2 separate regions of the Homo sapiens genome follow, and region 2 is linked to region 1. The links come from fine-mapping of genetic effects on gene expression. A gene starts in region 1. The other region holds a variant in brackets. All regions are shown on one strand. Distances are between the middles of the regions. Region 1 holds the start of BRD7 (bromodomain containing 7). Region 2 overlaps BRD7 (bromodomain containing 7).

Region 1 (17,216 bases):
CATTAGCTTTATTCTCAGGCAGGGCCTCCTCTCAAGCCCCAAAAGCACCAGACTGACATACCACTGGCTCAGCAAGCTTTTCATGGAAAGGTCCCACCAAAGCCAAGCCTCAGTCCCTGCCCACCTCTGTACCAATCACCAAGCCAGGGGCTATGATATTCTCATTAACCAGATTCCAGTCACAGGCCCACCTCTGAACCAATCATTGGTCCTGGCAGCTGTGATACTCTCACTGGCAGGCCTGGGTCACATGCTCACCCCTGAACCAATCCTCACTGGCCCTCGCGGCTGTGACACTCTCATTGGCAGGCTTAGGTCATGTGGGGAGAGGAGGCTCTCTAAGTGGAAGTCAAGAGGCTGTTGCTAGAGAAAGTGTTTATTTGGTGCCCAATGGGCAGAAATAACTAGTAACATCAAGGCTTCTCTCTGCCTATGTCCCAAGATGGTCACTTGGGTCTGAAAAGCCTGAGAAACCTGCTGACGCAGAAGAGCAGCCTTGGAAACCTAGCAAAAAGGGAAGGCCTGGGACATACCAAGAGTCCAGACAACCAAAAGGCCCACAGGAGGGGTCAGCAGGACCGGGGCAGATCAGACAGGTGCCAGAGGCAGGCGACCACTCTGCACAGTTACCACCAGAGGGCAGCTGGCCAGGAGGCAGGGTAAACAGGAAGAGGTCAAGTAGCCTTGGGGAAACTCTGTACCTTGCCTGAGGCATGGCAGATAATAACACTGACTACTCACCCTTATTGAGCCTGGCCCTGTCCTAAGCATTTTTATGCATCAACTCAATGAATTATCACCAATGAGATTGGTACATTTATAACCCCATTTTACAGATGAGGAAGCCAAGGCTTTCAAGTAACGAGCCCAAAGTGTCATACGGCAGAAAGGGGGCAAGTCACGCGTCTATTCCACCAAACCCTGAGCCTCCTGAGGTTAGGGGCTGTGTCTTGTTTGTATCTGAAGTCCCTGTGGACCCTAACAATCACTGTGCTTAATGGATATCTGGTGAAGTGAAAGCCTGGGGCAGGGGGCGCTGTCACTGTGTTCTCCACCCTCCCCACCCTCCCCATCCCAGGAGGAAATTACCAGGCTCAGTTCAGGCAATACCCCTTCCAGGTGTGCTGACCTTGGAAGATGATTCTTAGACCTTGCCCTTGCTCTGTTGTAATGGACTCTCAGGCACTACAGTACTCACATCAGTAGAAGAGAGAGTTTGAGATTTTGCAAAGGCTTGACAACTCCAAAGTCTCATGGTGTAGGTCACTTATTTTTGTTTGAGGCGGTCTTGCTCTGTTGCCCAGACTGGAGCACAGTGGCACAATCTTGGCTCACTGAGACCCCCACCTCCAGGGTTCAAGCAATTCTTGTGCCTCAGCGTCCCAAGAAGCTGGGATTACAGGCATGTGCCACCATGCCTGGCTAATTTTTGTATTTTTAGTAGAGACAGAGTTTCCCCGTGTTGGCCAGGCTGATCTCCAACTCCCGGCCTCCAGTAATCCACCAACCTAGGCCTCCCAAAGTGCTGGGATTACAGGTGTGGGCCACTGCAGCCGGCCTGTAGGTCACTATTTATGCCTCTCCCAGGAGTAGCTGGCTGTGCAGTTGGGGGGAAGAGGAAGAACATATTTAATGTGAATTCATTCATCATCCTCCACTGGGCTCCCATGGTGGGCCAAATACCATGTTGAGTGCCTTGAGGGGGACAGAGGGAAGCATGACAAAACCTCCTCTCTCCAATCCCCTCCTGGGAGGAGAAATAAGTCACTGCCAGAAGGAAGAACACAGAAGGAAGTCCTGCCTTCCACAAGAGAGGACTTCAACCGTCTAATCATTTGGGCAACAAAAATGTATTAGGTACATGTCAAGTGCCAGTGAACAAAACAGAATAGACTCAGCTCTTGCCCTCAGGAAGTTCTCAGTCTTATGGGAAGGCAGACAATAGACAAATAAATACGGAATTGCAAATGTGATGTGTTTTATCAGAAACAGAAAAACCACAGGGTGCTATAAGAGAAACTAAAAGAGGTCCGGGTGCAGTGGCTCACGCCTGTAATCCCAGCACTCTGGGAGGCCGAGGCAGGTGGATAACCTGAGGTCAGGAGTTCAAGACCAGCCTGGCCAACATGGCGAAACCCCGTCTCTACCAAAAACACAAAAAATTAGCTGGGTGTGGTGGTGAGCACCTGTAATCTCAGCTACTCGGGAGGCTGGGGCAGGAGAATCCCTTGAAACTAGGAAGTGGAGGTTGCAGTGATCTGAGATCTCGCACCTGAACTCCAGCCTGGGCGACAAAAGCAAAACTCCATCTCAAAATATATATATAAATAAAGACAGAAACTAAAAGGGGACTTGTTGGAGCAGTTTAGGGTTGCCTTTCTGAGGTGGTGAGAGATGAGAAGAGGCCAGCCATATGAAGAGTGTGGGAACAGCATTCCAGAATAAGGGAATAGCATGTGTGAAAGGCCTGCATGGAGGAAGAGTGTGGCATGTTCAAGGGACTAAGATTAGGCAAATTATGTCTGGAGATTAGTGGGTAGAAGTAGGCAGTGGCAGAAATCGGGGTCAGAGAAGAGCACGAGGTCAGGTTACACTGAGCCTTGTAGGCTTAGGAAAAAAGCTTGGGCTTGATCTGAGATGGGAGACCCCCCAAAGGGTTATGAACAGGACGATGATGTGGCCTAATCCAATCTATAATCTATGTTTTTGTTTTTATTTTTGTAACGTACCACCACCCACAGAAAAATCCATGTGTTTTGTTTTTAACAGAGATGGGGTTCTCACTATCTTGCCCAGGTTGGTCTCAAACTCCTGGTCCTCCTACCTTGGCCTCCCAAAGTGCTGGGATTACAGGTGTGAGCCACTGCCCCTGGCCCGGAAATCTGTGTATTTCAAAGTCACTCTGGCTGTGGTGGGGAAAGTGGATTTATGGCGGAGCAGAGTGGAAGCCAGGAAATATGGCAGCTCTTGCTGAGTCAATAGCCAGGGTGCACAGATGAGGGGCTATTCCTTCCTCATAGCGGGCTCTGGGGAGGCTTTCAGAAGCAGATTTTACCCCAGGTGAAAGAGGGACAGGCAGGCAGGAAGGAGAAGGCTGTATTCCCCACTCCACTCACTTTTCTCCTAAATAAAGGGGAGAAAAAAGTTTTTCCTTTTTCTGCCTCAGAAACTATAAAGAGATGCCCATTCATTGGTGCCTTCCAAAATGCCTATGTGTAGACTTAAACAACAATAACAACAGAACATCAGCAGTTCTGAGTGCAAATAATTCAATGATGTTGTAAAATCTGGCATAAATAGATCTGGCTGAGCCTCACAACTTTTCTTCCGGGGCTGACAATGTCAGCAACTCCAAGTCTGAACCCCTACTGGCTCTGAAAGGCAAGATCACAGTAGAGAGAGGAGGAGAAAACGCCCCTGGGTTGCATTTCCCCAGCAAATGGGCATGTTTGCCTCTCTGAGGAGCAGGCCAAGCATCAGCCAAGCCGACTGGAATTGGATTTGTAGGAAAGAACCTTTCTACCAGTTCTTTATCAGTGACCAGTCTCATGGGGGACAGGGTGAACATTTTGTGAAGCGTGTTATGTTTGTTAGCAGCAAGGTGCCTCGGGGCTCCTGTCAGCGCCAAGTAACAGGGCTCTGAGTAATTGGGCTCGGGGCTCCCCTCAGTAATAGGGCTCCAAGTAACAGGTAACAGTGCTCATCATTTACTTCCTCCTCTCATTGGGCCCTCACAACCTGCTCATTCTCAAGGCAGGTAGAGAAACTGAGTTTAGAAACAGGTGTTTGTTTTGTTTTGTTTTGTTTTGTTTTGTTTTGTTTAATGCTTGGTTACTTTGGGTACAGCATCCATTCTCCAATCCTCTGGTCACAGTACCCTAATTTTTCTAAGGGATCCCAACTTACTTAGGCCATGTGGTTTAGGTGGCACTCGTCTCCCTCCCAAGCTCCTGGGTTAGAAGACCCATGGTCTAGGATTCACTTGTCCCTGAATTCTGCCACCACCTTGACCACCCTCCACCCACATCCCACCCCTTCATGGTCATAGGCTCTAGGTGGGTACATGATATAAACCAGTCCAATCACATAGCCCTGTGACTTTTGATGGGCCACTGGGGAAAGGCACATTCCCTTTTTTTCTGGACTGGGATCTATGAGGATATCATCTGGGAGCTTCTAGAGGCCAATGGAGCCTGTCTGAGGATGGGACCAGGGCAGAAGGAAGTAGACCAGAGAGAGAGAAAGCCTGAATCTTGGGGACATCATTTGAGCACCTGGATATAGCCACACCTGAAGCTCAACCTCATTAGGGATGGGTTTCTGACTGTCACATGGAGGCCAAGCAATGCAAGAATGAGAACCAGGCTTTGTGATCTCCAGTTCAGTGTTCTTCCCCTAAATCAAGTTCCAGCTGACTTTATCCAGCCACACAACAAGCTCAACTAATCTGTGTGTGGCTTTATGGTCTGCTAAAAGATGTGTATTTTAAAAATAAAAACATCTGATCATTATAATGTTTTATCTAACCGAATTACAGAGCCGTGGAAGGGCCCCTGGAAGTCCTATCACTGAGTGGTTTTCAAAGATTTTCAGCAGCTTCTTGTTTCAAATGAAGTTTTAAGCAGAATGCCTATGTGTGAGAAATAAAAGCAGTAGCTTGTTAGTGCAAATGTGTTTTATCTTTTACGTTAAAAGTTCTTAACATTTGGCTGGGCACAGTGGCTCACGTCTGTAGTCCTAGCACTTCAGGAGGCCAAGGCAGGTGGATCACCTAAGGTCAGGAGTTCGAGACCAGCCTGGCCAACATGGGGAAACCCTGTCGCTACTGAAAATACAAGAATTAGCTGGGTGTGGTGGTGCATGCCTGTAAACCCAGCTACTCGGGAGGCTGAGGCAGGAGACTCACTTGAACCTGGGAGGCGGAGGTTGCAGTGAGCCAAGATCATGCCACTGTACTCCAGCCTAGGAGACAGAGTGAGACTCCATCTTAAAAAAAAAAAAAAGAAAAAAAAAGTTCTTAACATTTACTTTTTACAATCAATGAAGACCCAAATGTCAATGTGTTATTCATTTCCAATGTATAAAATTTTATTATATATTTGCATGTGTGGGAGGTTTTCAATCACTTTTTAAAAATTATTTATAATTGATACATAATAATTATACATATTTATGGGGTACAGAGTGATATTTTGATACATATATGCAATGTGTAATGATCAAATCAGAGTAATTAGCACATCCATCACCTTACACATTTATTATTTCTTTGTGTTGAAAACATTCAAAATCTTCTTTTCTAGCTATTTGAAATATACAATAAATTATTATTAACTATAGTCACCCTACAGTGCCAAAGAACACTAAAATGTATTCCTCCTATCTAGCTAAATATCCATCAGCAGACGAATGGATAAAGCAAATACACAGTGGAATACTACTCAGCCTTAAAAAAAGAAGGAAATCCTGTTGTTTGAAATAACATGGGTGACCTGGAAGACACGACATTAAGTGAAATAAGCCAGGCACAGAAAGAGAAATACTGCAGGATTAAAGGCTAAATCCTTTGCCCTCACTCATATGTGGAAGCTAAAGGAGTTGATCTCATGGAAGTAGAGGGTAGGCTAGAGCAGGAAGTAGGGTAGTAACTGGAGGCTGGGAAGAATAGGGAAGGCAGATAGAAAGAGGTTGCTTAACACACATCTATGCCAAGACGAAGAGAGAGGAGCTGAGCCACGTCCTGGCGGCCATGAAGAAAGCAGCTGCCAGGAAGGACTGAGCTCCCTGCCCTCTGCCCAAAATAAAAGCTTCACAGGAAAAACAAAAACAAAAAACAAACAAACACAAAAAAAAGTTGGTTAATGAATACAAAATTACTAGATAGAAGGAATAAGTTCTAGCATTCTATCACTGTTCTTTTTTAATAGTTAAAAATACTTTTTTGGGAGGCCGAGGCTGGCAGATCAGGAGGTCAGGAGGTCAGAAGATCGAGACCATCCTGGCTAACACGTTGAAACCCCGTCTCTACTAAAGATACGAAAAATTAGCTGGGCTTGGTGGCGGGCACCTATAGTCCCAGCTACTCGGGAGGCTGAGGCAGGAGAATGTCATGAACCCAGGAGGCGGAGCTTGCAGTGAGCCGAGATTGCACCACTGCACTCCAGCCTAGGCAACAGAGTGAGACTCAGTCTCAAAAAAAGAAAAAAAGAAAGAAAAAGAAACTTTTTAAATAATTGGGGTAAACGCCAGGTGCAGTGGCACACGCCTGTAGTCCCAGCTACTTGGAAGGTTGAGGCAGGAGGATTGCTTGCACCCAAGAGTTCAAGGTTGTTCTGCACTACGATCGCCCCTGTGAATAGCCACTGCACTCCAGCCTGGGCAACACAGCAAGACCCCATCTCTAAAATAAATGAATAAATAAAGTAAATGAAAAGTCCCTCAGATATTTTCCATCTTTCTGTGGGCTTATGAGTTAAAAAAAAAAAAAAAAAAAAAAAGAACCTTTTAGTTTATCTGGTTTTGTCAAAGGGTCTCCTTTTGATGTCTAGTTGTTCCAACTTCAGAAATGTTCCCTTTCTCTTGTCCAAGAAAATTAAGTCTAAGTATAAGCTAATGTTCCAGAATAGTGCTTCTCAAACTTTAATACACATATATGAATCACCCAGGAATCTTGTTTAAAATGTGAATTCCGATTCTACAATCCTGAGGTGGGACCTGAGACTCTGCATCTCTACCAAGCTCCCAGGTCCTGCCAATGCAGCCGTCCCTGGACCAATCTTTGAGTAGCCAGGCTCAATAAAGGGGTATCATGAATCTATCCCCTGAGGCAGGGAGAAAAGAATCACCACCAAACTCTAATAAAAAAAAAAAAAACACCACTGGAGAATATCTGGAATGACATATACCAAACTATTACAGAAAGTGGTGAGATTATGAGCAATTTGAAATATCTTCCTTACACCTATTTGTATTTTCAATTGGTCTATAACAAACATTAATTACTTAGGCAATAAATAGGTTTAAAACTAAATAACTGAATCAAGAAAAACCTAAAATACACACATATTTTTAAAAACAAAGTCTTTATCAGACACTGACAGAGCGTCAGAAGTGCTTCCCTAGAACCAACAGCTTGAAAGCAGCCAGTCGAGTCCTCTTTCTTTATCTTTTTACCTTTTTTTTTGTTTTTGAGACAGGATCTCACTGTGTTGCCCAGGCTGGAATGCAGTGGCACAATCATAGTTCACTGCAGCCTTCACCTCTTGGTCTCAAGTGATCCTCCTGCCTCAGCCTCCTGAGTAGCTGGGACCACAGGCATGCACCACTACACCTGGCTAATTTTTAATTTTTTATAGAAATGGGGTCTCGCTACGTCACCCAAGCCAGTCTTGAGCAATCCTCCCACCTCAGCCTCCAAAAGTGCTGGGATTACAGGCATGAGTCAGCGCATCTGACTGACTCCTCCTCTTTCTGCAGCCCTGTTTAGATGGAGATAGGGGAGAGACATGTCCAGGTTTCACAGCCAGTCTTTGGCAGAGCCAGGACTATGAAATTAGAGATCTGGGTGACATGGCACAAGCCCACAGCCACAGTCTGATAAGAGTTTATCAAACACATAGTGACTTTCTGTGAAGGGAATTTAATCCTGGGCCCCGTCCGCAGGGCAGTACTCCAAGGAATCATGATGGACCGGGAGCCCGGGCCTGCAGGATCATTTCTGAGCTGCTCATGGTCTGTCCCCAGCCTGGGGCTCCTGGAAAATGCCCAGCTTTCTCCAAGGTGACCATTTCATCTGGTTTATCCCACTTTACAGGGGGAAGTCCACACCCCACAGCCTGTCATTCAAGGCCTCAGTGTTCCCTTCTGTATCTCTGTCTCATCACACCTCCCACTCTCCAGCATCACCTCAGTGGCCTTGCATGCACAAGTCTACTTGTCTGATCCACCCTCCCCCAGCCCTTCCAGTGCTTAGAGGCTCCCTGCAGCCTGGCCGAGCTTTCCTTCCTCTACACACTCTCAGCCCGCCACTGCCCTCACCTGGCTCCAGTGCTCTGTCCTCCCCTGCTGGGTGTCCTACTCTCCTGCTTCTCCTCCTGCCTCCCTCCCCCTCCTCAGTCTCCTCTGCTGCTTCCTCATCCTTTATTCACCTGTTAGATAATATTGAAGCTCTTCAAGGCTCCATCTTCTCTGATCACTCTACTCTCTCCTCCTGGGTGGTCTCATTCACTCCTGAGGTTCCAAAGACATCTCTATGCCAAAAATCTATTTTCAGGTCTCACCTCCCTTCCAAGCCCCAGACACATGCATTCACCTTCCTACTTGGATTCTCCTCTTGGGTTCTGCATAGGCATCCCTAACCCCTCCTAAGTTCTTCCTCCTACATAACTCTTGAATTATCCCATTGCACCATCCCCACATCATCCACGCTAGACCAAGCCACCCCCATCTCCCCTTTGAAGACCACATCACTTCTAAGCTGGTCTCTCTGCCCGGTCTCCTAACCCACTCCAATTCTTCCTTCATTCAGAAGCCAAAGCGCTCTTGTTAAATTGCCAATATGGCCATGCACCCACGTCCACTGCCTTCATGGGCATCCCAAATAAAATCAAGCATCTCTGCCATGCCTTGAAAAGCTCTGCCCAGCCCAGCCTTTCTTCCAGACACAGTCCCCATCATCTCTCTTGCTCCAAACCTGCTCTCCTCTCCTCCCTGACTGCACCCAACTTTCCCTCGCCTTTGCACATGCTGACCTCTCTGCCTGTTTAGTAGATGCAGCTGATGCCCCCTTGGCTCACCTCTCCTGAAGGCACATCCTGCTGGAGGGGCATCACCAGCAGCTGGGAGTGTTGGCCACTCACGGAAGGCAGCCGCACACCTCCCTCAGAGAATTGCCCTGGGACAAACTAGAGTCACCTCTGTAATAGGCGACAATCAGGCAGACCTCGCTGCCCACCATGGGCTACAAAAGGCCAGCCACCTCCCACAGGGTGGGACTGTTCCCTGGACAGTTGATGTTCCCAATCCCCCCTCGCCCCGCCACCACTGTGGCACGGGGCTGAGGCTGGGACCACCTCTTTCTCTGCTTCTACCCACCCCGTCCTGCTTCTCTCCCAGCTTCTCCCCAATTGCCACCCCAACAGATCCACGCCTCAGGTTCCACTTGTAGGGCACCTAACCAAGACTTATCCTCCAGGTTAGGCCTGGATGAGCCCTCAGCCTGGGTCAGAGCACTATCTGGACAGCAGCTTGCTGTTTTCCTTTCTAACCGTTAGCATGGCCATGATTAAATATTTGTCTGTGTTCTCTGTCTAACATGCATCTCACTGTGCTCTCCATAAGGGCAGGGCTGTGTCTATTTTACTCCCACCGTGTTCCTAGCACCCCCCAGCACATAGTAGGCACACAGAAAATATGAACTGAAAGAAGGAAGGAAGGTCCTGATGTTGCCTCTGTCTTATTTGATCAAGGGCTCTGAGGCTAAATGACTTTTGGGGTTGGCAGCCGTGAGTGTCATGGCTTGGGCTCGCTGCCCTCCAGTAAGCAGCTCTGAGACCGTGTGGGCAGAGGCCATGTGGCATGCCTGCGTGGATGGCGGCCATCCACCGCCTCTCTCTTTTCCTCACTCAGAGGCAGCAGCTGGGGCTGCTCCGCCAGTGACCGTGAGCAACCCTGGAAGCTGCACTGTCAACAACCTGTCATAGCGAATCACCCCAGGCCACTGATTCCCCACAGAGCTGCCTGCTGAACCAGCCTCAGCCTCTTGAGGCCTCTCCCAGCAGCACTCACAGGCTGGCATCAGGCTGGCACCAGGAAGGCCCAGACCTGCTCCTGGTGCCAAATGAGGCACTAGCTGGAGCTGCTGGGAGCCTGGGCTCAGGGGATGCCACCTCCCACCCCAGGACAGAGGGCAGGAATCCCCATGGAGTATCCAGGAGAACCGGCCCTTTCCCACCCACCGTCTGCCCCATTACACTTGGGAAGGCCTGTGTTGTGCCAGAACATTTCTCACTCCTTGCTTTTGCTAACCCTCATGCCAGCCACACAGGCTGCATGAGGCTGGCTCTGCCCATCCCTCAGAGGAGAAAACTGAGATTCAGACAAAGGAAAGCAGGAGAAGAAGTTAGTAGCCCAAGGATTCTCTCCGTCTCAGGAGTTCCCCATCCTGCATCAGTGCTGCATAAGGGGGCTTTGAGGAGTACAGCCAAACAGAGGCGAGGGGGCTCAGAAGCCCCTGATGTTTGAGGCTTTTAGTCTGTCCAGATCATAGGTCAGCACCCAGCAGCCCTCTTTCATTTGTTGGCTATAGGGGAATAGCTATAAAGGGTTCCCAGTGGGTGTCCCAGAACCAAGGCCCCTGAGTTTCGCCCAGCCCTCATCCCACCCAACCAATGAAGGCCACACTCTACCTCAGGGTCAGGTGGCAAGGACATCAGCTGTGTCCCAGAGCGTCCTCTCTGTCAGAGCACCAAGGCCTGAAGGCACCCTGGGCAACAACTCCTCAGCAGAGAGGCCAGGCTGAAGAGGGGCCACCTCCAAGCTGAGCTGCGCAGAGATTTCCTGGGCATGCCACACCCCCCAGTGGCCAGGCTTTCTCCTCCACAGACTCTCCCGGAGGGCTCCAGTCACCTCGTGTCTCCACCAGAAAGGGGAGGAAGGAGGAAGAGAATTATTATCACAACACAGTAATTATGATGTATTCATTTGTCCAACAAATATTTCTCCAGGGCCTGTGCTGAGCCCAGCTCTGTGCTAAGTGCGGGGCACACAGCCAGGAGTGAGACAGACCTAGTCCCTAACCTTGGGGACCTGGGAAGCCAGTGGACAGATGGTGGACACGCACACAGATAGGGAAGAGATATTCAACATAATTTTGGAGGCTGTAGGTGCAATGGAGAGAAACAAGGCATTGCACAGGCTGAGGGAAGAGGGGAAGGGGTGTGTGGGTTGGTGGTCCAGAAGCTTCTCTGAGGTGGTCACAGGGGAGACCAAGGTGATGTGAGGGCAGGAGCCACTCCAGGAGCTCAGGGGAGAGTGTTCTGAACACAGGGAAGAGAAGCAGGGGCTTGGGGCAGGAGGGAGGAGGGGGCAGGGGGATGGGGCTGGAAAGAGAATGAGGGCCAGATCCGGCCCTGAAAGCCAAGGTGCAGATTTGGCTTTGACTTCGAGTGAGACAGGGAGCCACAAGATGGTTTTGAGCAGGAAAGTGACATTCACAAATATTTAAAAGTTAGTATTAGCAGCTGATATTTATTGACCATTTACTATCTACCATATCAGGCATTACTCTCGGCACTCTGACCACATTATCTTCTTTGATCCTTACAACCACCCTGTTGCAGCAGCACACCCAATGACCTCACCCTGGTTCCAAGGTTCAGAGGTAGGCAGCCCTCTCAGGACATGCCAAAGTCACAGACCCTGTAAGCATCTGTGACCCCAGGACTCAAGTCAGCTCTGTCTCACTCACTCAAGAGCTGTTGGGCTGTTGGGGGAGAAGTCTGGGCACAGCTTAACTGGGGCCTCTGCTTCTGGGACTCTCACAGGGCTGTGATCAGGATGTCAGCCAGGGCTGAGGTCTCATCTGAATGTTCCACTGAGGAAGGATCCACTTTGAAGCTCACACAGTTGCTGGCAGGATTCAATCCTTCAAGGCTGTTGGACTGATAGCCTCAGTTGTAGCCGGATGTCAACTGGGGCCCAGCCTCAGGTCTTTGTCACATGGGCTTCTCCAGCATGGCAGCTTACTTCATCAAAACATGCAAGCCAAGAAGGCAAGAGAGACGGTCAGCAAGTAAGACTGAAGTCTTATGTATCCTCAACACAGGAGTGACGTCCATCATCTTTGCCATATTCTATTGCTCTGAAGCCAGTCTCCAGGCCATTCTACACTCACTGGGAGGTCATGAATGGCAGCAGGCAGAAATCTCTCAGGGGAGTCTGCCCGAACCAGGACCGTGCAGCTCAACTAGCATTTTCTGGTGCCTTCTATGTGCCAGGCATGGTATTAGTGCTGAGAATTTAAAACTAGATGAATTTGGGCTTCCACTTCCAGGAACATTTTTCTGGGAGGTGTTTTCTGCTACGTACTCTTATTCACTTTCCATTGATGTGACCACTTTGTGACCTATGTAGAATCACTCTTGAGAGGGTAGGGAAATTACTAACTTGATAGTATGGATGAGTTCACCAGACCTTTTTCCTCTGAGGGGCATTTGGACAGTAGTAGTCACTGTGCTAGGCACTGTAAGTACCAAGGAGGTACCCAGGGTAATGAGGAGCAGACAGGTAAACCCACAGGTTGAGCCTGGAGCAAGGCAATGCCACAATAGAGGCCAGACCCACAGTGGGAGTTGGCATAGTGGTTCTTAAAGCAAAATAAGTTACAGACAGTGGATGAAAAGCTGAAACCAAGCTTTGCCCTATGCTTAGGGGGCCTAGGGGGCCTAGCTGGCTTGATTTCAGAGCAGCAGAAGGTCTCTTCCCCAACACAACCCCTCTTCCCACACCCTGATCTCTGCCTCACGGACACCAGAGAGGCTTGTTACAGGGAAATAATAGACACACACTTTTAGCTTTCATGAAAAAGCAACTCTCTTCATTAGAAGAACCTCATCTTCCCTGGCTAACCATAGAAGTCTGGCAGGAGCTGCCAATCACAGACTCCACTTCTCTTGGCCAAGGGGGTGAGGGGGTAGATTTGGCATCCAGGCCGAATCAATCTCCCATCCCCTGTCCCATAAAACATGTGACACAAGCCAAGCCAATCAGAGTCCTTCCCTGGGACTGTTTTCCAGGTGAAGCTGACAGGAAGAGATCTTTTTCCCAGTTGGTCAGGACACTATAAAGAAGAGGCCTCAGAAGCAGATGGTGGCCATGTTTCCAGCCATATAGGAAAGAAGGGGGGAGATGGAGACCGATATACAGAGAGACAAGAGAGAGAGCGAGCTGGCATGCCAGTCAACAGCATTACATCCTTGGTTCCTGTCTTCCCTCTGGCAAGCTTTATTCTTGCCCTTTCTAGACATGTAAACCAATAAATCCCTTTTTATTTACTTGAAATAATTCAAATTGGTTTCTATTAGTTGCCAACAATAGGGTCCTAAAATATAAGCCTATAATTTCACCACTGAAGTTCAAGGTAAAGCTACAAATCTTCCTGGGAGAGGTGATTCATGGGTCTAAATTGTTACTAAAGTATAAATGACTGATAACAGATCCTTTCTTAAGAGGAGACTATAATTACGAGCTTATCTGAAAACAGACAAAGCACCATACAGCTAGAAGTAAAGACAGTCAAAACGTCTGGTAACCTTCACCTATCAGCACATAAGTTTTTTTTAAGATTAGAATCTTCAGTCACCAATGTGCTGAGTTTGCTGGGTCTGGCACCCAGTATGGGGTTCAGTCAATATCGTAAAAGGGAAGAAACAGAAGCAAGGGAAAGTGGAAAGAAAGGAAGAGTGGGGGAAGGAGGAAGGGGAAAAAAAGAAAAGAAAAAAAGAGGGAAGGAGACGGGAAGAGGAGAAGGAAGGGTGATGAGGGAGGAAGAAAAGAGAGAAGGAAGGCTTGAAGGGAGGCAGTAAGGAGGGAAGAAAGAAAGGAAGGAAGGAGGAAGGAAGGGAAGAAGGGAAAGAGAAAGAAAGAGAGGGAGGGAGTAAAAAGAAGGGAGGGAAGTGGAGACGGAGGGAGAGACACACAGAGACAGAGACAAGACAGACAAATTGAGGGGAAAGGGAGGAAGGAAGAAAGACGAGAGTCTGAGCGGTGGATCCCGCCCCGGCCCCGCCCTCGGCCCCGCCCCCGGCCCGCGAGCTGCAGCACCACCTCCGGTCGCCAGGGGCCGCCACCCGCAGCCGCCGGCACCCTGTGCGCGCGGCGGGCCTTCTTTCCCGCCTCTGCGCCGGCCGCGCGCCCCCCCCGCCGCCGCTCTCGGGCTCCGGCCGGGTCTCGCGCGCCGTCTTCTCGAGAGGGGCATCGCGCCGCCCGGCGCGCGCCGCCCCCCTGCCTCGCGGCGCGGGGTCTCGCGGGCCCCGCTCCCGCCCTCCGCTCGCCTGGCCCGGACCGGAAGCGGCGCCGCACGGCCTGGGCCTGGCGCGGGGGGCGGGCACCGGGGCCCGGTCGGACATGGGCAAGAAGCACAAGAAGCACAAGTCGGACAAACACCTCTACGAGGGTGAGGAGGGGGCCGGGGTGCGGGCGGCGGGCCCTCGGCGGCTCTGCCGGGCTTCCGCTCTTTCCCAGTGGCTCCGGGGCGGCCCGGGGCCCTTCCTTCCCACGGCAGGCCCAGGCCGGCGAAGGGGGCGCGTCCTGCCGGAGGCCGCGCTGCCCCCCGTGCGGCCGCGGCATTCGAACCCGGGTCCCCCTGGTCCGGTGGGTCTCTGGTGGGGAGACGTGAGGCGGGCCCGGGAGGCCTGGGAGCGTTCGGGGCGGGCGGCGCCGCCGCACCCCCGGGCCGGGGTCCGTCATTCAACAGGTGCTTCGCGGAGCGCCCAAAGCCGCCTCGGGCTTGCTGCGCCTTGGCGCTCTGCATCCTTAGCACTCCCTGGAGAGCCCCGATTTTAATCGACGCGCTTTCCTTTCTTTTCTTTTCTTTTTTTAAGAGTATGTAGAGAAGCCCTTGAAGCTGGTCCTCAAAGTAGGAGGGAACGAAGTCACCGAACTCTCCACGGGCAGCTCGGGGCACGACTCCAGCCTCTTCGAAGACAAAAACGATCATGACAAACACAAGGACAGAAAGCGGAAAAAGAGAAAGAAAGGAGAGAAGCAGATTCCAGGGGAAGAAAAGGGGAGAAAACGGAGAAGAGTTAAGGTACAAGTGGTTACATTGCTTTGGCTTTGCGGACGGCACTGCCTCTTCCAGGTGCCAACCTCATTTTATTTTCTTTGTATCTGGGGAAAACAAACGCCTCTAAGATCTGGCTCGTTTGAGGAGGAGCAGGACAGAATAGAGACATGAATCATCTATGAGTTTCAGCAAGTCGTTTTTGGATTATACTCTTAGGCAATTGTACTCGCACATCAGGTGAGGAAGCAGCTAAGTCCAAATTTTGAGGAGCTGCTTCAAAGAATGGTTTTTCCATCTAGGCAGGGTAAAAAGTCATGCTCAAGAAAGCCTCAGTGTTCAAGGATTGTCAAAAATAGTCATTTCAGAAGCGAGTGGGATCTACTGGGGTTTAAAGTTTGTTCTGAAATAAATATTATAATGCCAAATCTGTAATGAGCAACTTTAAATCTTTTAAAACAGTGTTGTAGTGTGTTGAGAAAATTTGGTCAGAAACCTGTAATGGAGATTGATATTCTTAACCATTTGCATTTAACAGAAAAGAATGAGTAGCTACCATCTTGGTTTGAAAGCTGGGCAAAATAATAATTAATGGCTGGGCCCAGTAGCCCACACTTGTAATCCCAACACTTTGGAATGCCGAGGTGGGAGGATTGCTTGAGGCTGGAAGTTCGAGACCAGCCTGGGCAACATAGCAAGGCCCTGCCTCTGCAAAATAAACTACAAAAATTTCCAGAGCCTGGTGGTGTGCACCTGTGTCCCAGCTATTCAGGAGGCTGAGGTGGGAGGATCCCTTGAGCCCAGGAGTTTGAGGTACAGTGAGGTATGATCATACCACTGCACTCCAGCCTGGGCAATAATACGAGACTCTGTCTCTAATAATAATAACATTGTTATTACTGTTATTAACTTTCCAAATTTAACCTGCCACTGAACGACTTATTACATCAATTATTGTGAAGGTAAATTTTCATAGGTTAGTTATGTAATTTTTCTTATGTTTATATATACAAGAGGAGCTTTCTCTTCCATGTGATTGAACACATTGCTAAGTCACCAAGTCTTAGAGATCTTATTTTGGGGATTTCTTAAGTCTATTCCTTCCCTTTTGTCCCAGTTTTTATTACCTTTGGCTAGGTAGGAGTAATGTTTTGTTTTCTTCCTTAAATTATAAAACCCATATATGCATTTGATTTTTTAAAAGTAGTTCATGTGGTGCAAAAGTACACAAAATGGAAAAAGTTTTCCTCACCCCAATCCTTCACATAGACTCCCTCTTCAGAGGTAACCAGTTGTTTTTTTTAATTAATAGTAGTAAAGTAATTCGTGAAGATGATTTTTAAAAGTCAAGAGTACTACACAGCTTTTTGACACAAAGCAGGCTGCTGCTCCACTCTGGACACTTTTTAGGTATTTTTCCTTGCCTACTTATTTCTATTTCAAAATAAAGGTTTATATTGCTATTTACTGATTTAGCAGTTTATATCTTCTACTGACATCATGTTATGGAAGATGAGAATTCAGTTTCCCTTGCTCAAGGTATAGGTACATCACAATTATTGGTTAAATCAATATTAAAGTGATTGTAGACAAGTATAGTATGCAAATATAGATCTGATCTTAACTAGTTAGATCATTGCTTTCATTTGTTTGGTTATTGCTTAATAATTCTTCCCAAACTCTAAGATTTATGAAACTCATTTGAGTTCTTTACTTCCTTTTTTATTTTCCTCTGGAGACATTTATCTTACAGCTTTCTGTCTCCTGGAGGCTGAATTAGTTGCTGTCAAGGCCTCCTGGGACTCTCCTTCACCTGCTTCCTGGATCTCATGCCTTCCTCTTTCTTGATTCATTCCCTTGTTCTGGTGGACTCTTAACTCTAGGAACGTCCTAAGAAAGCATACACGGGGTAGATTTTATAAGTTCTAACATGTTTGAAAATCTGTATTCTGCCCTCATACAGGTTGATGGTTTGACTTGTTTAGATTGAAAATTATTTTCTTTCAGACTTTTGAAGGCATTGCTTTGTTGTTTTCTGGCTTCTAAATTTGCTGTTGAGAAGTCTGTTGCCATTCTGATTCTTAGTCCTTTGCATATGACCAGTATTTGCTAACTTGAAATTTTTAGGATCTTCCCCCCTTATCTTCAGTGTTCTGACATTTCACAATGAATACTTGTGCCTTCAGTTCAGAGCTGTGTGCTTGAAGTATTCCTGTGTTCATTTCTTTCCCTCCATTTTTTCTTTTCTTGGTTTCTGGAACTCCTGCCCTTTAGATATTAGACTCCTGAACTGATCCTCTAATTTTCTTATGTTTTTCTCATATTTTTTCTGGGTGTGTGTGGGGTGGGGGAGGGTTCTTCCTTCAGGGAACATCCCTAAAATTTCTGACTTTTCCAGATTTATTTCAGATCTTATACCTTGAATTTCCAAGAA
Region 2 (8,000 bases), 30 kb after region 1:
CTTTGCCCACTTTTTGATGGGGTTGTTTGATTTTTTCTTGTAGATTTGTTTAAGTTCTTTGTAGATTCTGGATATTAGCCCTTTGTCAGATGGATAGACTGTGAAAATTTTCTCCCATTCTGTAGGTTGCCTGTTCACTCTGATGGTAGTTTCTTTTGCTGTGCAGAAGCTCTTTAGTTTAATGAGATCCCATTTGTCAATTTTGGCTTTTGTTGCCATTGCTTTTGGTGTTTTAGTCATGAAGTCCTTGCCCATGCCTATGTCCTGAATGGTATAGCCTAGGTTTTCTTCTAGGGTTTTTATGGTTTTAGGTCTAACATTTAAGTCTCTAATCCATCTTGAATTAATTTTTGTATAAGGTGTAAGGAAGGGATCCAGTTTCAGCTTTCTACATATGGCTAGCCAGTTTTCCCAGCACCATTTATTAAATAGGGAATTCTTTCTCCCTTTCTTGTTTTTGTCAGGTTTGTCAAAGATCAGATGGTTGTAGATGTGTGTTATTATTTCTGAGTGCTCTGTTCTGTTCCATTGTTCTCTGTCTCTGTTTTGGTACCAGTACCATGCTGTTTTGGTTACTGTAGTCTTGTAGTATAGTTTGAAGTCAGGTAGTGTGATGCCTCCAGCTTTGTTCTTTTGGCTTAGGATTGACTTGGCAATGCAGGCTCTTTTTTGGTTCCATATGAACTTTAAAGTAGTTTTTTCCAATTCTGTGAAGAAAGTCATTGGTAGCTTGATGGGGATGGCATTGAATCTATAAATTACCTTGGGCACTATGGCCATTTTCACGATATTGATTCTTCCTACCCATGAGCATGGAATGTTCTTCCATTTGTTTGTATCCTCTTTTATTTCATTGAGCAGTGGTTTATAGTTCTCCTTGAAGAGGTCCTTCACATCCCTTGTGAGTTGGATTCCTAGCTATTTTATTCTCTTTGAAGCAATTGTGAATGGGATTTCACTCATGATTTGGCTCTCTGTTTGTCTGTTATTGGTGTATAGGAATGCTTGTGATTTTTGTACATTGATTTTGTATCCTGAGACTTTGCTGAAGTTGCTTATCAGCTTAAGGAGATTTTGGGCTGAGACGATGGGGTTTTCTAAATATACAATCATGTCATCTGCAAACAGGGACAATTTGACTTCCTCTTTTCCTAATTGAATACCCTTTATTTCTTTCTCCTGCCTGATTGCCCTGGCCAGAACTTCCAACACTATGTTAAATAGGAGTGGTGAGAGAGGTCATCCCTGTCTTGTGCCAGTTTTCAAAGGGAATGCTTCCAGTTTTTGCCTTTCGGTATGATATTGGCTGTGGTTTTGTCATAAATAGCTCTTATTATTTTGAGATATGTCCTATCAATACCTAGTTTATTGAGAGGTTTTAGCATGAAGGGCTGTTGAATTTTGTCAAAGGCCTTTTCTGCATCTATTGAGATAATCATGTGGTTTTTGTCTTTGGTTCTGTTTATATGCTGGATTACGTTTATTGATTTGCATATATTGAACCAGCCTTGCCTCCCAGGGATGAAGCCAACTTGATCGTGGTGGATAAGCTTTTTGATGTGCTGCTGGATTTGGTTTGCCAGTATTTTATTGAGGATTTTTGCATCGATGTTCATCAGGGATATTGGTCTAAAATTCTCTTTTTTTGTTGTGTCTCTACCAGGCTTTGGTATCAGGATGATGCTGGCCTCATAAAATGAGTTAGGGAGGATTCCCTCTTTTTCTATTGATTGGAATAGTTTCAGAAGGAATAGTACCAGCTCCTCTTTGTACCTCTGGTAGAATTTGGCTGTGAATCCATCTAGTCTTGGACTTTTTTTGGTTGGTAGGCTATTGCCTCAATTTCAGAGCCTCTTATTGGTCTATTCAGGGATTCAGCTTCTTCCTGGTTTAGTCTTGGGAGGGTGTATGTATCCAGGAATTTATCCATTTCTTCTAGATTTTCTAGTTTATTTGCATGGAGGTGTTTATAGTATTCTCTGATGGTAGTTTCTATTTCTGTGGGATCAGTGGCGATATCCCCTTTATCATTTTTTATTGCATCTATTTGATTCTTCTCTGTTTTCTTCTTAGTCTTGCTAGTGGTCTATCAATTTTGTTGATCTTTTCAAAAAACCAGTTCCTGGATTCATTGATTTTTTTGAAGGGTTTTTTGTATCTCTATCTCCTTCAGTTCTGCTCTGATCTTAGTTATTTCTTGCCTTCTGCTAGGTTTTGAATGTGTTTGCTCTTGCTTCTCTAATTTTTTTAATTGTGATGTTAGGGTATCAATTTTAGATCTTTCCTGCCTTCTCTTGTGGGCATTTAGTGCTATAAATTTCCCTCTACACACTGCTTTAAATGTGTCCCAGAGATTCTGGTATGTTGTGTGTTTGTTCTCATTGGTTTCAAAGAACATCTTTATTTCTGCCTTCATTTCGTTATGTACCTGGTAGTCATTCAGGAGCAGGTTGTTCAGTTTCCATGTAGTTGAGCGGTTTTGAGTGAGTTTCTTAATCCTGAGTTCTAGTTTGATTGCACTGTGGTCTGAGAGACAGTTTGTTATAATTTCTGTTCTTTTACATTTACTGAGGAGTGCTTTACTTCCAACTGTGTGGTCAATTTTGGAATAAGTGCAGTGTGGTGCTGAGAAGAATGTATATTCTGTTGATTTAGGGTGGAGAGTTCTGTAGATGTCTATTAGGTCTGCTTGGTGCAGAGCTGAGTTCAATTCCTGGATATCCTTGTTAACTTTCTGTCTCGTCGATCTGTCTAATGTTGACAGTGGGGTGTTAAAGTTTTGCATTATTATTGCGTGTGAGTCTAAGTCTCTTTTTAGGTAACTCAGGACTTGCTTTATGAATCTGGGTGCTCCTGTATTGGGTGCATATATATTTAGGATAGTTAGCTCTTCTTGTTGAATTGATCCCTTTACCATTATGTAATGGCCTTCTTTGTCTCTTTTGATCTTTGTTGGTTTAAAGTCTGTTTTATCAGAGACTAGGATTGCAACCCCTGCCTTTTTCTGTTTTCCATTTGCTTGGTAGATCTTCCTCCATCCCTTTATTTTGAGCCTATGTGTGTCTCTGCACATGAGATGGGTTTCCTGAATACAGCACACTGATGGGTCTTGACTCTTTATCCAATTTGCTAGTCTGTGTCTTTTAATTGGAGCATTTAGCCCATTTACATTTAAGGTTAATATTGTTATGTGTGAATTTGATCCTGTCATTATGATGTTAGCTGGTTATTTTGCTCGTTAGTTGATGCAGTTTCTTTCTAGCCTTGATGGTCTTTACAATTTGGCCTGTTTTTGCAGTGGCTGGTACTGGTTATTCCTTTCCACGTTTAGTGCTTCCTTCAGAAGCTCTTGTAAGACAGGCCTGGTGATGACAAAATCTGTCAGCATTTGTTTGTCTGTAAAAGATTTTATTTCTCCTTCACTTATGAAGCTTAGTTTGGCTGGATATGAAATTCTGGGTTGAAAATTCTTTTCTTTAAGAATGTTGAATATTGGCTCCCACTCTCTTCTGGCTTATAGGGTTTCTGCTGAGAGATCTGCTGTTAGTCTGATGGGCTTCCCTTTGGTGGGTAACCTGACCTTTCTCTCTGGCTGCCCTTAACATTTTTTCCTTCATTTCAACTTTGGTGAATCTGACAATTATGTGTCTTGGAGTTGCTCTTCTCGAGGAGTATCTTTGTGGCATTCTCTGTATTTCCTGAATTTGAATATTGGCCTGCCTTGCTAGGTTGGGGAAGTTCTCCTGGATAATATCCTGAAGAGTGTTTTCCAACTTGGTTCCATTCTCCCCATCACTTTCAGGTACACCAATCAGATGTAGATTTGGCCTTTTCACATAGTCCAATATTTCTTGGAGGCTTTGTTCATTTCTTTTCACTCCTTTTCCTCTAAACTTCTCTTTTTGCTTCATTTCATTCATTTGATCTTCA[A/G]TCATTGATACCCTTTCTTCCACTTGATCAAATCGGCTACTGAAACTTGTGCATGCATCACGTAGTCCTCGTGCCATGATTTTCAGCTCCATCAGGTCAGTTAAGGTCTTCTCTACCCTATTTAATGTAGTTAGCCATTCGTCTAATCTTTTTTCAAGGTTTTTAGCTTCTTTGCAATGGGTTCAAACATCTTCCTTGAGCTCAGAGAAGTTTGTTATTACTGATCGTCTGAAGCATTCTTCTCTCAACTCATCAAAGTCTTTCTCCCTCCAGCTTTGTTCCGTTGCTGGCAAGGAGCTGCGTTCCTTTGGAGGAGAAGAGGTGCTCTGATTTGTAGAATTTTCAGCTTTTCCGCTCTGGTTTCTCCCCGTCTTTGTGGTTTTATGTACCTTTGGTCTTTGATGATGGTGACATACAGATGGAGTTTTGGTGCGGATGTCCTTTCTATTTGTTAGTTTTTCTTCTAACAGTCAGGACCCTCAGCTGCAGGTCTGTTGGAGTTTGCTGGGGGTCTACTCCAGACCCTGTTTGGGTATCACCAGCAGAGGCTGCAGAACAGCAAATATTGCAGAATGGTACATGTTGCTGCCCGATCCTTCCTCTGGAAGCTTCATCTCAGAGGGGCACCCAGCTGTATGAGGTGTCAGTTGGCCCCTACAGGGAGGTGCCTCCCAGTTAGGCTACTCGGGGGTCAGGGACTCACTTCAGGAGGTAGTCTGTCCGTTCTCAGATCTCAAACTCCATGCTGGCAGAACCACTACTCTCTTCAAAGCTGTCAGACAGGGACGTTTAAGTCTGCAGAAGTTTCTGCTGCCTTTTGTTCAGCTATGCCCTGCCCCCAGAGGTAGGCTCCACCCAGTTCGAGCTTCCCGGTGGCTTTGTTTACCTACTCAAGCCTCAGCAGTGGTGGGCGCCCCTCCCCCAGCCTCACTGCTGCCTTGCAGTTCAATCTCAGACTGCTGTGCTAACAGTGAGTGAGGCTCCGTGGGCATGGGACCCTCTGAGCCATGCGCGGGATATAATCTGGTGTGCCATTTGCAAAGACCATTGGAAAAGCACAGTATTAGGGTGGGAGTGTCCTGATTTTCCAGGTACAGTCTGTCACAGCTTCCCTTGGCTAGGAAAGGGAATTCCCCAACCCCTTGTGCTTCCTGAGTGAGGTGATTCCCTGCCCTGCTTCGGCTCACACTCTGTGGGCTGCACCCACTGTCCGACAAGCCCCAGTGAGATGAACCCAGTACCTCAGTTGGAAATGCAGAAATCACCAGTCTTCTGCATCACTCATGCTGGGAGCTGTAGACTGGATCTGTTCCTATTCGGCCACCTTGGAACCTATCACTACACACTTTCAAACAACCAGATCTTGTGAGGACTCATTATCACAAGAACAGCAAGGGGGATATCTGCCTCCATGATCAAATCACCTCCCACCAGGTCCTTCCCCCAACATTGGGGATTACAATTCAACATGAGATTGGGGTGGGGACAGAGAGCCAAACCATATCACATGTACTCTAAAGTAAAGAATAAATTGGCTTGTCCAGAAATACTAAAGAGAAGTTTAATTACATTTTCTAATTTGATGAAAGTTAATTGCTCTCTGAGTTCATTTTGGCTATATTTGTTGAGCATATTTTCTTCAGCTTTAAGAAGAGTATAGAAAATTTACAAGGACCTGAAAACTTATAATATATATACCTATTATAGATGAGGTTTTTCCCATTTGAGGGAGTGTCCTGGTGTGTGTTGATTCCAGGGAAAGGAACCATGTATATTAAAATTTACTATGTATTCAACCGCCACAAACTTAATTGGTTTAGATAATATCTGTTTTACCTCTACTTTGTTTTACATAACCACAGTAGTGCTCACCTGACCTATAAGGGTTAGACCCTAATTGGTTACCCTAATTAGTTATTTTCCTAAAAATAAAATAAGATAGTGTCTTTATGGCCAGGTGTGGTGGCTTACACCTGTAATCCCAGCACTTCCGGAGGCCGAGGCAGGTGGATCACAAGGTCAGGAGATCAAGACCATCCTGGGTAACACAGTGAAACCCCGTCTCTACTGAAAATACAAAAAAATTGGCTGAGTGTGGTGGCGGATGCCTGTAGTCCCAGCTACTCGGGAGGCTGAGGCCGGAGAATGGCGTGAACCCAGGAGGCAGAGCTTGCGACAGAGTGAGACTCCATCTCAAAAAAAAAAAAAAAAAAAAAGACAGTGTCTTTACTTAGTCCCTTTTTTCATCCACATATTGATAAGCAGAGATTTATGAAGAATATCAGTGTTTAGTGCTCTTTACTGTTGAGTTTATAGGTAATATTCCACTTTCTCCAAAGAATCTGAATTACATTCTCTCTTATTTCGAGAAATAGAAACTTTTCCCAACTTTTTATCTGGTGAAAATTAGGCTAAAACCGTTTATTTCAGCATATTTCTGACCTTACCATTGCTTAATGGGAAAGAATTTCACAGTTTTTTGTTTTTTGTTTTTTTTCTGCATGATTTTCCTCTGATCTTTCTCTTACAGTAAGAAGAGTAGAAGTGTGTCCCCAGAGTGTTTTTAAGCAGGTTAGGGTTTATCATAATTGAAAGGAATTGGTATCTTAGCTCTTTAGAATTTCTACGTTGCCACTTTTTTCTAGGGAAAGCTCAACGGCCTAAAGTAATATTTATTCAGTTCATTTGGCAGTTGAAGTAAAATGTGTGTGTGTGTGTGTGTGTGTGTGTGTGTGTGTGTGTGAAAAGTGTGCAGGAAGACTCAGCTTTTTGAATGACCAGTGCCATCACCCACAGTTCAGTAAAGCCCAGCACATTATGTTAAGATTTAAGGAATCTACAAATTGGCTTAATAGATCAGTCCTGTGTTCATTAGAACAATTCAGTACTCTTGCCAGTTCATAGGCCCATTATCTGGCCAATTATAGGCCAAATGGTCACTTAGTTTGAGTATATATAGTAATCTAGTATCTCCGTTCACTTGCGTCCCATCCCCCCAAATACATATTTAATTTTTTTTTTTTTTTTTTGAGACCGAGTCTCACTCTGTTGCTCAGGCTGGAGTGCAGTGGCATGATCTTGGCTCACTGCAACCTCCACGTTCAGGGTTCAAGCAATTGTTGTGCCTCAGCCTCCCAAGTAGCTGGGACTACAGGGGTGTGTCACCACACCCAGCTAATTTTTTTGTATTTTTAGTAGAGACGGGGTTTCACCATGTTGCCCTGACCAGTCTCAAACTCCTGGGCTCAAGCAGTCCACCTGCCTCGGCCTCCCAAAGTGCTAGAATTATAAGGGTGAGCCACTATGCCCAGCCTAGTAATTCTTAATGGCCTGGAAGCTTTTCCAAATATCTGTAACAAAGGTCTTTAATCTAGGGTCCTTTGGATACCATAATGAGCCTTTAGAGGGACCAAGAACCTACTAAAATTACATGAAGACTTTTGTGTTCAGCTGTGTGTGTGTGTGTGTGTGTGTGTGTGTGTGTGTGTGTGTGTACTTAAGGTCTGGTCCCATAGCTTTCATCAGATGCTTAGAGATCCAAGACCTGGCATATTTACAGTCATGGCCCAAACTGAAGATCCACATATACTTCATCCACTTTAATACCAAATTTATTGCGACCCTTCACTCAGTCTTACGTACTTGTACATAGAACTCAGTCTACTTATTTTTGTTCTATTTAAGTGTTCTAACCTGTCATCACTATTAAATAGTGGAATTTGAATTTTTTTTGTTTTTTAAACAAATTTGTAGGGGGCAGATTCTCTTTTCTTGGGTTTTTCTTTCAACTTAGTAAGGCCTTGGCATAATGAATCGCACATTTATAGATGTAAAAATTACTTAACTATGAAAGCATGCAGTGGGGTCAAGTTCTCCAGCACATAGCGGACTTGGAAATTTAAGCCAAAAAGACAGTTTTGGTAATTTGGCTACTCCAGTTACATGTTTTAACTCCTTGAGGTTGTATGGTTTATTTCACATTGGCATGGTTTTGCAACATTCTGCAAATTATGTTTAGTTTATGATAGTATCCAAACACATAAAAGTAGTGTAAATGTTTTAACATTTTT

The links. PIP is the estimated chance that this variant, and not a neighbour inherited with it, causes the effect.
Region 2: its variant is fine-mapped to the expression of BRD7 in whole blood (INTERVAL, PIP above 0.99).

The regions. Positions count from the first base shown.
Region 1 is chr16:50,365,683-50,382,898 of GRCh38, reverse strand. It overlaps BRD7 (bromodomain containing 7), which reads left to right and starts at 13,911. Exons shown (of 17, transcript NM_013263.5): 1 at 13,911-14,173; 2 at 14,601-14,809. The coding sequence starts at 14,125. RefSeq lists silencers at 7,867-8,161, 13,733-13,982, 14,013-14,522.
Region 2 is chr16:50,340,602-50,348,601 of GRCh38, reverse strand. All of the region lies in intron 5 of BRD7 (bromodomain containing 7), which reads left to right. Among named protein-coding and RNA genes, the nearest start is that of BRD7, 24 kb to the left of the region's middle. The variant A/G (reference allele first, on the strand shown) is at 3,931.